Regions from separate parts of the Homo sapiens genome. Here all the other regions are linked to region 3. The links come from fine-mapping of genetic effects on gene expression. A gene starts in region 3. Each other region holds a variant in brackets. All regions are shown on one strand. Distances are between the middles of the regions. Region 1 has its middle 40 kb from the start of CNTN6. Region 2 overlaps CNTN6 (contactin 6). Region 3 holds the start of CNTN6 (contactin 6).

Region 1 (5,237 bases), 41 kb before region 3:
TTTTGACTAATGTTTCCTCAAACATTAGTTTCAGAAATCATACCATGATTTGAGGCTATTAATTCCCAGGAAAAGAGCATATGACATTTTGCTGCTGAATCTTGTTTTTAATTACTAATTACTTAAGGAGATATGAGAAGCATATAGTGGCTTTTAATTTCTTTTCCAGTTTACAATTTAAAAAATTAGTTTAAATTATTTACAGAGAAGATAGTGTCACATTAGTACACTAAATTGAAATAGAATTGTATTCCACTGCCTTGGCTTCAAATGACTTAGTGTGCTTGAAATGATTACCTGTATATGGATGGCTAAATAGAGAAATATTAGGTGTTTAGTATGTTGTGAACTTCTTCCTGGCCTATTTATTGCCTAAGTGGCACTTAAGAAAATTAGACAAAATTTTGCACTAAGCCTGATGCATAATCAATCTATTCAATAATTCCCACTATGCCTTGACCTTCATAAGGTCACTCCACTGTTGACAAGTCTTGTCTGTAACTTAAAATTACAGACAGCTGGGTAAGCCCATCGAGTGTCATGGACACATCTATTTGGGCACTTCTTCAATACTTTGACTTTGAAAAACTTTCAATTCACCAACTGGTATCAGTGGTCTAAAGAGGGTCACTTCTTGATTATTTGACAGCTCCTGGAAATCTCTGTGTTTTTTTTTTGCTTCTCTCTAAGAATAATTATAGATATAAAGGCTTGGAATTCATTTTAAACCTGTGATAGTGTGACTACAGTTCAACATAAAGATTGATAATGTAGTGTCTGTTATGACTCATATCTTAGCCAGTTTTTGTTCCCCAATGTCAGTTTTCATGTTATACACATTTCCTTTTAGTTGAGTATGAAAAGTAGAGCTAGCAACATATATTTGGAGTTTTTGAGTTTGTAGGCATCATTACAATTGTAATAATTTTATACTCACTGAGAGGGCCACAGTTATGTTTTAGGTATATTGTAATTGCCTATGATTCCTAGCTTTGGTTGGCACTGCTATTTGGACATTAGTTGTTGATCATCAACCTATTCACAAATTGTTATTCAACATAATGGAATATTCTGAACAAGAAATTTTGCAATGATTGTGAAAAGTTCATACATTTTGGCTGTGTTGACCATGGGCTTCAGACTTGTTTCCAAGAAGCATCAAAATAATTAAAACTAAATTTCAGGCACAATAAATAGCCATGTCAACTTCCATATCTACATGATAAAGTGAGAACGGTTTGGGAGTATACAGCTGGGTGCATAAACTTACAAGGGAGTTTCTTTGAAGAAAACAATATTTTTCTCTTACAAGAATTAATTCAAATGCTGCTGGTTTGTGGTGCTAAAAAAATGTTTCTAGCTACAGTGTTTTAAATTCCCCTGAAGAAAACAAAATGTTTTATGAATATTAGGATTCAGTTTTAGACTTTCTTACATTTGGAAACAGGGCTACTTGTTGGAGGGGTTCTCATTTTACTTCACAGTGAGTGAGTGGCTCCAGCTGACTTCTTGGGTGCTTTGTTGAATTGGTGGAATAGGTAATAGTGGTGAATGACTAAACATAGCAGACATAACCATTAGTAACTCATAGTGACTTGGAAGACACCTCAAGGGAAACAGCGTTCAGCCCTTTCATCTTTTGTAGCTAGGCCTTCGGTCTTTCAGTTGCAAGAAACTTAAATTCAACTCAAACTAACTCAAAGAAAAGAGAAATTAATTGACCCATATAGTCAAGGAGGGATTTAGGAGTATTTACCGAATAGAATTTTTAAAAAACAAACAGCAGATGAATTAAATATTTAGAACCCACAGTTTAACCGTGCTGGGATTTTCTTTGACCTTCTCTTGCTTCTGTTTCTTGCTGTGTGTTGGCTCAATTTCCTTCTAGTGATCATAAGCTTTAAAACAACCACATTTTAGCAACTTCAGTGGGAAAGCACATGATATTTGTAAATACTTATGGATTAATATCAAGCAGAGAGTTGGATTTATCCATCCTTTGAGCCAACCACTATTGTCTGGGAAATAGGTTATAATATTTGCTAACTCCTATTGCTCATCGCTATGACCAGAGGGCTAGTGCAAACTACAGGTGGAAGAATATAAAAGACATTCTTTTGTAAAAACAGGAAAAAAATAACACTGCCTAGCACGTCCACTGCACCACTTCTTGTGCAAACACCTGTATAACATCCTTACAGGTACTCCTCAGCATTAACTGGGTAAAATGTAGGATATGATGAAAAGTTTATTAGACCTGGCATCTATCTCATCTCTGTTTCTAGCCAGTTTTGTGGTGATGAAAAAGACATTTTGCAGCTCTGAACTTTATTTCTTCATCCATAAATTTGTTGCTCTATCATTTTCAATCTCTGTGAATAGGAATTACTGACTGACAATCTCATTCTGTTGTTGTAGAACTCAGATCAAGCTCCATTGAGCTAAATGTTGTCTTTCTTGCATTATAATACAGAAATTAAGAGTGAACTCTTATATCAGATAACCCTTAGTTTGAATCCTAGTATGTGGTACTCAGCAATTCACTCAAACTCTCTATGTCTCAGTTTCTTCATTGAAAGGATTTAATTAGAAGATGTATATAAAGTGTTGGCAAAATGCCTAGCACATATAAACACTGGATAAATATTAGTCATTGCTCTTATTAGTATTATTGTTTTCATTATTATTTTTAACTTACAACAACTGGAGTTTGGCTTGTCAAGAGTCGTGCAGAATTAAAGAGTCTGTCTTTCATGGGGACAAATCTTTCTTTCCCTCCTGCTTCACCATAGTTTACAATTCTTTAGAGAAGAGGCGCTTTGGATACTTCCCCACATAATACAGACGATATCTTTCATTTCTAATTGCCCAGGATCAAAGACTAGTTCCACATTAACTAAACGGCCTTACCATTTTAATGTGT[T/G]TTGAATCATTTACAATCCAGAGATATGGAAACATAGCAAAATTTTAGAGTAATGGTAAAAAGCACCTGGGAACATGGTGTAGGATGGTGTAGGAGCAGGTAATTGAGCACAGACAGTTCATTTAAATGCCTAGATCATGTAAAATTATTTACTTGGAACTGGCCCAAGTAATTTGCAATAAATGACCTTATTTTTTGCATGTTGAAAACTGCTTTTTTTTTTTGCTTGAGACAAAATCTCCCTCTGTCGCCCAGGGTGGGGTGGAGTGGCACGATTTCGGCTCACTGCAACCTCCACCTCCTGAGTTCAAAGGATTCTCCTGCCTCAGCCTCCTGAGTAGCTGGAATTACAGACACCTGCCGCCATTCCCACCTTTTTTTTTTTTTGTTTTTTTGTTTTTTTGTTTTTTTTTTTGGTATTTTTACTAGAGATGAGATTTCACCATGTTGGCCAGGCTGGTCTCAAACTCCTGACCTCAAGTGATCCACCTGCCTTGGCTTCCCAAAGTGCTGGGACTACAGACGCGAGGCACCACGCCCAGCTAAAAACTGCTTTTGATCATTAATTTTTTGACATGTGCTATTATCTGGAAGAAAGTAATAACAGGTGAAAAAATAATTGTTACTTTAAATGATGTCTTAGGGACAGCCAAGACATACCATTAGCTAGGGCAAAAATTTATTCAAACTACTTCAGAATTATGTAGACAGTTTTTTTGTTTGTTTGTTTGTTTGTTTTTTAATGGGATGGGCATTTTTGATCAAATGTGCAAAATAGCTTAGCGTCATTTTTTATGATTTTTAATTTTCTGTCTTAAACTTATATACTTTTTTGAACAGTGGTATTTTAAATTAATATTAATGTGGAAAATTCAGAGCATTCTTGTTTCATCATCTTGACAACCAGGTTAGACTGGTAAGGTGGGAATTATAATGATTATCTTCATTTTACTAAAACAATTTTCCCAAGGTTACACAGCTAGTCTATGGCCAACACAGACTTGCAGACATACGTATTATAACCAAAAGAAAGTGTTCTTATTAATGGAAAATAGGGTAAGGTATTTGTTCTGTTTTTCTAATGTTGCTTTAGATTCTTTAGACAAATCATCTGTGCTAAGGTTGCTTATAAAAGCATCTGAAGATCAATGGAATTAAGTTGAGACAATTCTGAAATGAAAATTCAAGTGATGAAATTCCCCAGAGTTCAATTATTTGAGTTAAAAGTGTTTGTAATAACAGATCTTGGTACATAGTTGGCACATTTCTCCGTTGTGTTTTTCCTCTTTCTATCACCTTTCAGTTTCTATTACAACACTCTTAGGGAGTTTACTAATAAATTAATTATTGGAAAGCATATATTGCCTGAAGGTTTATGTACCAGTAGCCATTAGCCACAATATGCCTAGAATAGATATGTCATTTCCCGGTTGAAATATCGATCCAGGAGAACAAATGAACAAATTATCAATTTGGACATGCCAAGAAAAAAAAATTGAATATGTAGCCATGTTTATTTGAGACATTTTACTCCATAAAGCATGTTTAATAAAAAGAATGAGTTCATGCAAGAATTGCAAACAGCCAGTCAGAGCCATGTGATGGTACTGGAAGTTGTTTTACAAATGTATGTTCCAGTTCAGGAGCATCCTCTCTTAGTAAAAACTTCCTTTTAATAGCAGCATCTTAGGCACTTGATCCACAGAAGGAAGTAATTAAATTTAATACATGCAACACTCATTTTGAGGACACCCTCGATTTAAAGTAGCGGGGGGCATAATTAAGTCTAATAGAAATCATGGCTTGAGAATGAAGATACACTATCAAGCAAACACAGACCAAGTCTACACAGAACCAATTACCTGGTTAATTAGGGCTACAAGCTGTGTTTATTTCATGTTATTCAACCAAAGCAAAGCTTGAGGGTTGATATTGTTTGTTTATTTATTTAGTTGGAATTACATTTATAATTGGAATTAAATGAATATAAACCACAATATTAGATGAGCTTAATGCTCATATATAGCCACCCAAAAAGAAAAACAAAGAAGTGGAATCATTAACTAAGTGTTTTTAACTGAAAGAGTAGATTTGGAAGCATATATATACATAGCCTAAACCATCAGAAAAAAAAAACTATATTCCCCTTTCCACTCTTTATCATAAGTATAACTTCAATTAAAGGAAATAACTTTGATTTATAGTTAGACCACAACATAGTATCTGTTGTCCTGTCTGTTATAGATCAAGTCAGCTTGGTGTAATGGAAACAACTCTGGCTTAGGAGTTAAGAGTTCGTGGTTTTTATCATTTC
Region 2 (5,237 bases), 57 kb after region 3:
TAAATTTTTATGAGTTTAGGAGTTTTTATGAACCTCTTATTAGATTTCTCTTTTGGGCTAAAGGCCAAACTAACATTTTATCTTGATTTCATTTATCACTGCATAGCTTAAATGTCAAAATAAATTAGAGAAAATTATGATGCAACCCCCTTAGGAAAAGCAAGTCTCGTACCTGAAAGATAACACTGCTAGAAATTGATTTCTTGCAGAAATTTTGCAGCACAATATTAATTTTTCTCTTGTGATATTAGGACAAATAATGTTTTCTAATATTTGAGGTGTGAATTGAAATTAAGAAAATATGAGCTGACATTACTGGAACTCGCAGAACAAATGTATGTGTAGAAAGCATCCATTTAGGTTGCTTTATTTTGGATAATAATATTAATATTAAATTGAATTAATATGCAACAAAAATATGCTTATTAAAATATTCGTGTTTGTACGTTTTTCATTTCATGACAATTTTGTCTTTTTCAGACTCTTGAGATACTGACTGGAAGATAGACTGTTTTGTTCCACCTGATTGTATGGGAGAAATTTTTGACCTTAGAAAGTGGAAATGAGGTTGCTATGGAAACTGGTAATTCTGCTGCCACTCATAAACTCTTCTGCAGGTAAAGTGTTCTATTATTATAAGTTTTGATTGATAAATATATTGGCATTGTATTTCTTTCTATGGGTGAAGCAATTTTCAAAATGCACAATTTGTATGTTATTTGAATGACTAAGTGATAATGTTTTGAAGGTAACTTCTATGACTCAGACAGGGAAAGTTTAATCCTTAAAAATGTATCAAATGCCAGTTTTAAATGGAAACTAACATTATTACATTTATAAATTGGCAAATATGACATTTTTATACAATGTAATTATGTAATATTTAATTATATAATATACTATGACATTTTAATAAAAGAATGTAATTAAATATTTTTATCACCAATAAACAGTGAATAATTATTCTTATTTTCATTATAGTGAAGTCTTTAAAAAATTAAAATTAAAATACATATTTCTCTCATGTTTAGAAATTGATATGGCAAAAAAATCAAAGCTATATTCATTTAGAAGAAAAGATGATATAGAATGTTACCTCAGAACTAGAAATAACCTTAGATATATTTTCTTTTTAATTATTTTAAAAGAATAGACAAGAACATGTTCTTTTATTCAACTTGAACATATTAATATCTGTGTATCAGTTAACTTTTGCTTTGTAATAAGCCACGCCAAATGTGAGTGTAATAAAATATCAAATAATCATGTATTTAGTTGACAAATCTGTGGGTTAACAACTTACGATGGGCTCAAATGGGTCTTCTTTTGGTTTTTGCCTGGGTGCACTGCAACTTCGATGAGCTGAGTCATCTGAGACATGACTAGTCTAGAACATTCGTAACTGAGACAACTGTGCTGCCATGGCTGTGGTCCAAATGTTACCCTCTGTGAGTCTGGGTTCTTTTACATGGTGGCTGCTCAGGGTTCCAAGAAAACAAAAGACAGAAGAATGCAGCATTTCTTGATGCCAACGCTTGGAACTGCTACATTGCCATTTCTGTGAGTTATTTTGACAATTATAAGTCACAAGACAAGTTCAGCTTTAATAGATGTGGAATGACACTACATCTCTTGATAGAAAAGCTGCAAAATTATACCATAAAAAGGCCATAGAAATAATAAAGGCAATAATCGTGGCTGTTTTTGTAAACAACCAACCATAGTCTGTTACAATCATAGAGTTCATAATTACTGAGCTTAATTGTCAAGATTAATTGTTGAGCTTACCTACATGAGTTGTTACAGAGCATGGACATTGATTAGATCATATGATTATCAAAGAAGCCTCTCTTCTACCATACCATGCTTCTTCCCCCCGACTATGTGTTGATAGGTACTAGTGAAGTTTCACGTACTTATAACAAAGCAGTAATACATTGACAGACATGCAGGAATAAA[C/CATA]ATAATTTAAAAGGCAGAAACACAGTAATTGTAAAGGACATATATTTTATAGCAATCCTGAGAAATAGATATGCTGATCTTAAAATGAATGAGAATGCTAAAATATGCAGAAATCAAACAGGAGAATCAGAAAACCATACAAATAAAAGCAATTTTACCACTAGCAAAGCTAGCAGCTAGAAGTGCCATAGTTATATTTACTCAAAGTGATTACAGTATTTTGATTGGTGACACCTCTAAGTCTCTGTAACAAAGATTTGGGGTTAAATAATAGTGTATTCTTTTTTTGGTAATAGATTAAGAAAAGACAGAGAAAACTCATCAAGGTGCCCCCAAATCATATATGTGTGAATAAGAATTATATTCCTACCCTTAAGTTTCATCTTCCTGTCAAAATTCAACATTAACATTTTGCCCTTTAAATATGTATATTGAATTAGCATAGGATCTCTAAAAGACCTTTTGTGTTAAATTAAAATGAATTATTAGTCTCAGAACACGTATCAAATCTGAGAAATACTCCAGCTCTTATATTAACTTTTATTTATACAAACTGGATGTGATTCAACATGTCCTGTTGCTTTATTCTGATGGGAGAAATCATCATATACCCTTGGTGCACAATTTCATTGTGAAAGAACAGATTGGATCTATTAAGTAGCCATAGCTACTTAAATGAGATAATCTAAGCTAAACATTGCTCCAGAGGTAAGGATGTTGATAATGACATACACAAGACAACACTGCTTTAAATCTGTTTGTTTTGTTAGACGTTTCATGGTGTGTCTCCCTATTCGCAGATACTATTTTAGTTTAGAAAATTAGATTGTCTGATGATAGAGTTCTGTGACTATGCATAGTGATAATATCTTGTTTTTCCAAAACATACTTTTTATTCATTCTGAAATGCCAGCAAATCTTTCACAATTACTTACTTTTTCCTTGCTATTTGAATTATTATAATTTTTCTAACAGGTTGATACTTTAAATCTCCCTAGACTCTAAATTAAAACTTAAAATTTTTTGACAACCTCTCCCCTCATTTTCTAAAAATTAACTACAACTTCTAGTGCTTTTACTATAGTCATGGCCTCATAGGCCTTTACAATGAAACTTAATCCATACAGTCATACATGATTGATTCTGGGACACTTTTAAAGTTTTGAGTACTTAAAAGTTTAATTGTTCTATTTTAGTATTTTTAAAATATTAGAAGAAAATGAAGGCCCATTTAATTAGGAAATACAGTTAATAATTATATACTTTTTAACTGTTTCATTGATATGCATGACAGGCTAAATAATGGCCCCAAAAGATATCTAGGTCCTAATACCTGGAACCTGTGAGTGCTACTTGATACAGTAAAGTGGATTTTGCAGATGTGATTAAGTTAAAGATCTTCAGATGGGGAGATTAAAATAGCCCTGGACTATCCAGATTGTAAGAAGGAGGCAGAGTTAGACCTGACAGAGGGGAAGGCAATGAGGCAGCAGAGCAGAGGGAGACGTGAAGATGCTGCACTGCTAGACTTCAGGACTGAGGAAGGGATCATGAGCCATGGGGTGTGATGAAGGAAGCTCTAGATGCTGGGAAAGGCAGGGGGACAGATTCTCCCCTCTATCTGTGGACTGAGCATGGCTCTGCCTGCACCTTTTTTCAGCCCCGTGAATCCCATTTTGGACTTCTGACCTCCAGGACTCTAAGAAAATAAATATGTACTGTTTTAAGCCATAACATTTTTGGTAACTTTTATAGAAGTCATAAGAAACTGAAGTTTCTTCCTCACTATGCTTTAAGCTTCCAGATGGCAGGGACTATATCTTGCTGGTACTTGGTAGGGATTCAGTAAATATTTGTTAAATGAATGAATTAATTAATTACCAAAAGTTAATGTTGTTTGTTCTATTTATGTTATCACAGTAGAATAAATTTAGTCATATAATATCCTCTGGGGAACTGTTAGTCTGGTTCATTCCTTTATGGTTGCCAGTGTGTATTAAAGTTACAGTCATAAGTTTCTAGAAATAGAATTGTAATAACGTTTTAAAAGTTTTAAATCATGCCGTATTTGAAACTCTGTGAGGGCAGGAAATTTCATCTGGTTTATGCTTTACTGATTCTCCATCCCCTAATACACAGATTCTAAATATTTGCTAAATGAATAAAAGAAAGCAGCTTCATTCACTTCAACAAATATAGAAATATATTAGAAACTATGATGTGCCAGGCAAGGAGCTTGATGTTGACCTTCAACAATAGGTCCATAGTCCCTGCCCTCTTCAACCTGACAGTCTAAACAGGGAAACCAGCAAGTAAGTCCACTTAAACTGAGATTCTGCCCCTTGTGACAAAAAAGTTCTTGACTAATACAGCTTTAAAAATTTGGTTTTGAGGTTGAGTTAGTAACAGAACTCTGCTGGGATAAATGCTTATTCACTAATGAAAATGAGGAAAAGAGCAAATAAAAGAATTTTAAGAAGTCACAATAATTCCTGGAAGGAAAAAAAAATCAAGAGGTTTAATATAGACTAAGAACGTTTATTCTCAGCCCTGAGTTACTGAAAAATCTACATTTCTTAAAGTAGAAAAAATATGTTAATGAGATAATTTGGATAACCAAATTAATAAACGGAGAAAAACTTATAACTGTAAGTCTACTTTTTGTCTTTGTAGACAATGCACAGATTGTTTTCATGAGGAAATATTTTATTTATTTATATATTTGTTTGTTTGTTTGTTTGTTTGTTTTTTGAGATGGCGTCTCCCTGTGTTGCCCAGGCTGGAGTGCAGTGGCGTGATATCAGCTCACTGCAACCTCCACCTCCTGGGTTCATACAATTCTCCTGCCTCAGCCTCTTGAGTAGCTCAGATTACAGGCACGCACCACCATGCTGGGCTAATTTTTTGTATTTTAGTAGAGACAGGGTTTCACCATGTTGCCCAGGCTGGTCTCAAACTCCTGAGCTCAGGCAATCCACCCACCTCAGCCTCCCAAAGTGCTAGGATTACAGGCATGAGACATCACAACCGGTCCAGAAATATTTTATTTTTTAATAAATACTGAACAATGTCAGTAATGGGTAGAAGCTGAAAAACCACGTAGGGTCAAATTTTGTTGACCCTAGAATGTCACCTGCCTAAGAAACCCAAGATTAACTGATGTGATTAACTGTCACATTTTCCCACAGTGAAAAATTCTCAGAATGCACAAGATGATTCTATTTTATTAAATCTTTCACCTTACCATGGCTTTTATGTACAATTTGAAAAATATTAGA
Region 3 (5,237 bases):
TGCTTAAAGGAGGAGTACTTGGTAAACTGTATTACTTGTGAGTGATACATCAAGTAAAATTAGGACTAAGTTGACCATTGCATTATTCTATGCGTAATTTAATATTGACTATGACCAGAAACACTTATGTGGAACAGTGGGGACAAAAGACTAATCAAAGCAGATTCAAGATAAAATGAGAAAAGATGAATGGAGACAGTAAGTACAGAGAATTCCTTCAAGGTGTTTTACTATAAACAGAAGCAAGGAAATGCAGTAGTAGACAGAGGAAGACGGTATGTTAAAGGGGTGCTGATTTTTAAAATGGGCCAACTAGCAGCAAATCTCTTTGTTGTGATGCTACAGAAGGTAGGGAGAGTTGATGATTCCACAGAGAGAGACAAGTGGGTAGAATGGTCCCTTGAGTAGAAGACTATCTAAAGCACAGGTGGATGGCTTGGTCTAAGGAGGGAGCACGGTTCACCTCAAGTAACAAGATGAAGGGAGAGTCTGTGGTCACAGGGGCCAAGTATGTGACTAGATGTAGTGACAGGAGCTTATTGAAGTTTTCTTCTGGTTCTTATTCCTTTTTGGGTAAAATAGAAAGCAAAGCAATCAGCTGTCCTTGAATATGAGTCAGACTGTTGGAGATTTGAGTAAAGGGATATTCTTTAAGCTTGAATGAATTTCTTTCCACAAAAAAAAAATAAAGCCTACTACATAATGATTATTTTTCTTAAAACTCTGCAGAAAAAGTCATCTTGGCATTTTTACAAATAAAATATATTTTTATTCCTACAGAGCAAGAAATACTTCTATTTTTTTTAAAAAAAAAAAAAAGAGGCAATAAAAACAGATATTCTTTCTATAAAATTATTAGTCTAGTTTGCCTTCTTATGAATTGGGAGAAACAATAGGGTAGCCCATTTTGAGTTTACCTTGTGTTAGGAAGCATCATCTCCTTTCTAAAGCCTCTTATAATGTTGGTTAGACCCTGTGAAGAAATCCATAGGACATAGTCATAAAATGTAGTCATAGAAACCTTCTTGCTCATCAGATGAAAGTAAACTGAGGCCAAGAAATATCTTTTGACTTATTTCCATTTGATTTGGGGATTTCATTTTCTCAGTATCCACTTACTTTAAGATGCTAAGAGTATAATTTCTTTGTATGCCAACATGAAAATAAGTCCAAACTATCATTCTTTTCTCATGTTATAGTTATGTTTGTATGCACTAGAGTCTCAGTGTGCATGTATGTGTAATTCCTATTCCTTAGTTTTCATCCTTCAAGCAGTTAGTCCCTTCAAAACCCGATGACAAGACCCAAACATATTAAAAAGTTTAGTTGGAGGGCCCAGGGTGAAACACAAAAACAATTCTTCTTCTTACAGAGCTCTTAGGCAAACACATAGACACTTGTTCTCTGCCTCTGGAATTACAAATATGTTACTCGGAAAGCAGCAATACTCTTTTGGACTTGTTTGACTTCACTTTCTTTACCTGTCTTTAAGAAGCCTCATACACACATTTAAAAAATACAACTTATAAAGGTTTTAGTGATAGTGCATACAATCATTTGATTTTATTTCCCTTTTCTCTTCACCTTCACTAATAGGAGTTACTGGCATGCTTCAAAAAGCTTACATTTGAATACTGTCTAAATCAGTGCAGACCCTTGACCAGCTTAATCTTTGCTTGCAAATGACAATGCAGTGAAACCAGAGGAAGAAAAAAATTACTTCCTTTCCTGTTGGAAACCTAATAAGTAGTTAGTCTGACCCAGTTTTCAATAAGAGAGATTTTCTGATGACCCGACAGGAGTGACTATCTCCAGTCAAAGAAAGAGGAGGGTGAATTTAATCTTTCATGGCCCTGGAATGGCAGCTGCTCTCAGCTCTCTCTGATTCTGTGAAGGTTGATGAAGATAGAGCTGGCTTTCAATGTAGAAAGAATTTTCCTTTTGAATATTCCAAACGAGAGCTTTGCACATGTGCCTCAAGAACTGATTGTCTGGCTCCGACAGGAATGCAGCAGGAGAGGAGCGTATTTCATGCTTAAGACCAGAGAAGAGCCACGCAATACTCAGTGGATAAAAGGCTTGCAGTCCCAGCTGGGAAAAAGAGTCCCATTATCTCCCAGCTGCATAGACATTCCATACGGCTTGGTTCTGCCTGGACGCACAGCATGCCTGGCTGAGAGCTTGAAACAGAGTTCTGCAGAAAAACTGTAAAGATCCCGAGACATTTCCCTGGTAAGATCTGTAAGTACAAAATTGTGCTGTGTCTGCTGCAATGAGAATATTGCTGGGCAAGCTGCAGCTTTTCTTCCTTTCAATGTCTTTGTATTAGCATAACAGGTAAAAGCTGGGGTTGGGGGAGAAGTCACTGCTTTATTGATGCTGTGTTTCTATGATGCTGATGTTTAAAATGCATTTATTCCTTGTGTGGGAGAAATGTATTGAATCTGTATTCCGGGAGGTTAGGATCAAACCAGGGAAAGAAAGACTACAGGTATATTTCTCAGTGTTTCACTAGTCTTTGCTGCAGTAAAACTAATGGGCAAGACGGGATGACAGTGCTAATTCTGGGACTTTCAGATGGCTACACGCCCTTTCTGTAACGGCAGATGGGAAAATGTGATCGCTAAATGTTTTTTGTCTTTTTTTTTTTTTTAATCAAAGGGATGAGGGGTGGGGTTTGCAGTTCTCACCGGATGATTTAAAAGAATGGTTATAAAGTTTCCTAGGGGAGAATTTGGTAAGGGGAGCAAAGCAAGACTGGAGGTCATATGGGCTCACCAAATTTTGTCTGGCATTTTGCTTTATACCCAGCTTCTAGATAACAGCCTCTGGAGTTTCCTTTACCATTTACACCAGTTAAGTTGTCAGTATTAAGGTTCTTATAATACTTTATGAAAACTTTCAGAAGTTGATGACTTGGGAACAAAACTTTTAAGAGCTCTGAGATTAGCCACGTATAACCCATTATGTTAATGGGATACTGTAACATTGGGGTTTGGGGGGAAAATTGGAATTCATAGTTTTTGCTTCTCCAAATGAAAACTACTTATGTTTAAATAATCAGCATCCTGACTATGTCCTCTGAGAAACATTCACAGAATGACTAAATAGAAGTTATACTGAGAAAAAATAGAGTGAACAGTAGAATCACACAGAATCAATTTGGAAAATGAGGTATTCATAATTTTATCTACAGTGGCAATGTTTTCTGAAGATGTCTGTAAAAGAAGAAGCATATGCTGAATATTGAATTGCTTGTTTTGAGCAATTTTCATTTATCTGATGGGTTTATCATCTTTTTATTTTTGTTGTTGAAGGTTTCACCAATTTATGTGCATTGTATTTTATAAGGAAAGAAATGTTTAAGCAGACTCTTTTTCCCTCCTCCTTCACACACATGTGTAAACATACGCATGTTCACAAAACAAACATAAACATACAAAAATACTTACACAATTTGTGTAAAAAAAAAGAAATACAGAAGCATTTCATCTTTGATGTTTCAGTGGGGTTTCTTTTTCTTTTTTTAAGCAATAATCATGGCTGTGCAGTCCAAAGATTTCAAATATATAAATGTGGAAACTTTTATATAAAGCTTTATGTGAGGTTATATAAATGCATAACTTATCACATCTTAGCAAAAAAGTCAATCATTTATAAATGACTTCATTGCATTACTTCCTTTGAATATTTGTAGTGAAGGACCAGAATTTTTTTTTAGAATTTTTATGTAGCTTTCCTTAATGAAAACAAATTCACTTGTTTACTTAGAAAAGGATCACATATTTTCTCTGAGTTTAGAACCCCCTCTAAAAAAAATCAATTATGTTGTGAAAAGGATGTGTGGTATATTAAATTGATTGCATACTTCTGGGTTTTTTTTTTAGTAAGTAAAAATGCTCAGTAGTATAATAGTAAATTTGTACCTTTTAAATTCTTTTATGTGAGGAGAAGGAATACAAAATATTTGCTTATTTATTCACTGTTTATTTTAATAACATATTAATTGGAATGCAGAAGTATAAGTTCTACCTATTAAAAATGACTCAAACTATACATAAAAGTTCAAAAGGGAAAACCCATCACCTGTAAATAACAATCATGAAATTTGGCGACTATCATTGGAGACATACTGGTGCCTAAATTCAGATAAGATGAGAGATAAATACTTTTGTAAGAATGGTTTCTTACTATACACCTTTTAAAAAATAAATAATAAATATTTAGATAATATAGTCAATAATAGATACTCTTCTGTAAGAATGAGATCTTATCCTACACTTAAAAAAAAACAGAAATATTGGCCGCGCGCGGTGGTTCACACCTATAATCCCAGCACTTTGGGAGGCCGAGGCGGGCGGATCACGAGGTCAAGAGATTGAGACCATCCTGGCCAACATGGTGAAACCCCATTTCTACTAAAAATACAAAAATTAGCTGGGCGTTTTGGCGTGTGCCTGTAGTCACAGCTACTCAGGAAGCTGAGGCAGGAGAATCACTTGACCCCGGGAGGCGGAGCTTGCAGTGAGCAGAGATCGCGCCATTGCCCTCCAGCCTGGGTGACAGAGTGAAACTCCATCTCAAACAAACAAACAAACAAACAGAAAACAGAAAACAGAAACATTGAGTTTAATTTTTGATTTTAGATTTTAATTAAACTGAAAAAAGAGAAGTTGAAACAACATTGAAGAAATTGTTAAATTTCATGTATAGATTTCTCTCCAATGGAGATATTATGTCCAGAATAATACCCTTACAGTTAAGACCAAAAATTTTGAAAATAGAAATAGTTTGAAGATTTTTTTGGATGCACGTTTAAATAGTAAACAAACTTTTATAACCCTTGTTATGATAGTTAAATGCATTTGCAATGTGACTTGTCATCAACTCCACCCATACCACCTCAATTTAAACTACATCAGTTTTACATTACTGAGTACATACATTCTGGCTGAATTCCCATGGTCTCAGTTTAAACTTATTTCAAATTTGTAAGGAATTATCCTTTATCAACAGGCTTTTACTACCCAATTCACCATTTCTGTGTTCTTTATTTTCAATTATTTTTTGGGTTGTTAGATTTCAGTAAGTAGTACCTCTCCACCAAAGAAATAGTCATAGGTGCTATATTTTCTATGAGTTTGCATCTTGAACATGTATTTCTTTTGCCTTAGACATGCAAGATACGTTATCTTTCTTGGATCAAGCTTAATTTTTTCTTTTGGAAATGTGTAAAT

The links. PIP is the estimated chance that this variant, and not a neighbour inherited with it, causes the effect.
Region 1: its variant is the best candidate, but not a certain one, in a credible set for the expression of CNTN6 in testis (GTEx, PIP 0.67).
Region 2: its variant is the best candidate, but not a certain one, in a credible set for the expression of CNTN6 in testis (GTEx, PIP 0.64).

What each region holds. Positions count from the first base shown.
Region 1 is chr3:1,049,997-1,055,233 of GRCh38, forward strand. No RefSeq gene overlaps it. Among named protein-coding and RNA genes, the nearest start is that of CNTN6, 40 kb to the right of the region's middle. The variant T/G (reference allele first, on the strand shown) is at 2,924.
Region 2 is chr3:1,147,447-1,152,683 of GRCh38, forward strand. CNTN6 (contactin 6) reads left to right here. Exons shown (of 23, transcript NM_001289080.2): 2 at 481-617. The coding sequence starts at 563. Among named protein-coding and RNA genes, the nearest start is that of CNTN6, 57 kb to the left of the region's middle. The variant C/CATA (reference allele first, on the strand shown) is at 1,960.
Region 3 is chr3:1,090,889-1,096,125 of GRCh38, forward strand. It overlaps CNTN6 (contactin 6), which reads left to right and starts at 2,136. Exons shown (of 23, transcript NM_001289080.2): 1 at 2,136-2,232.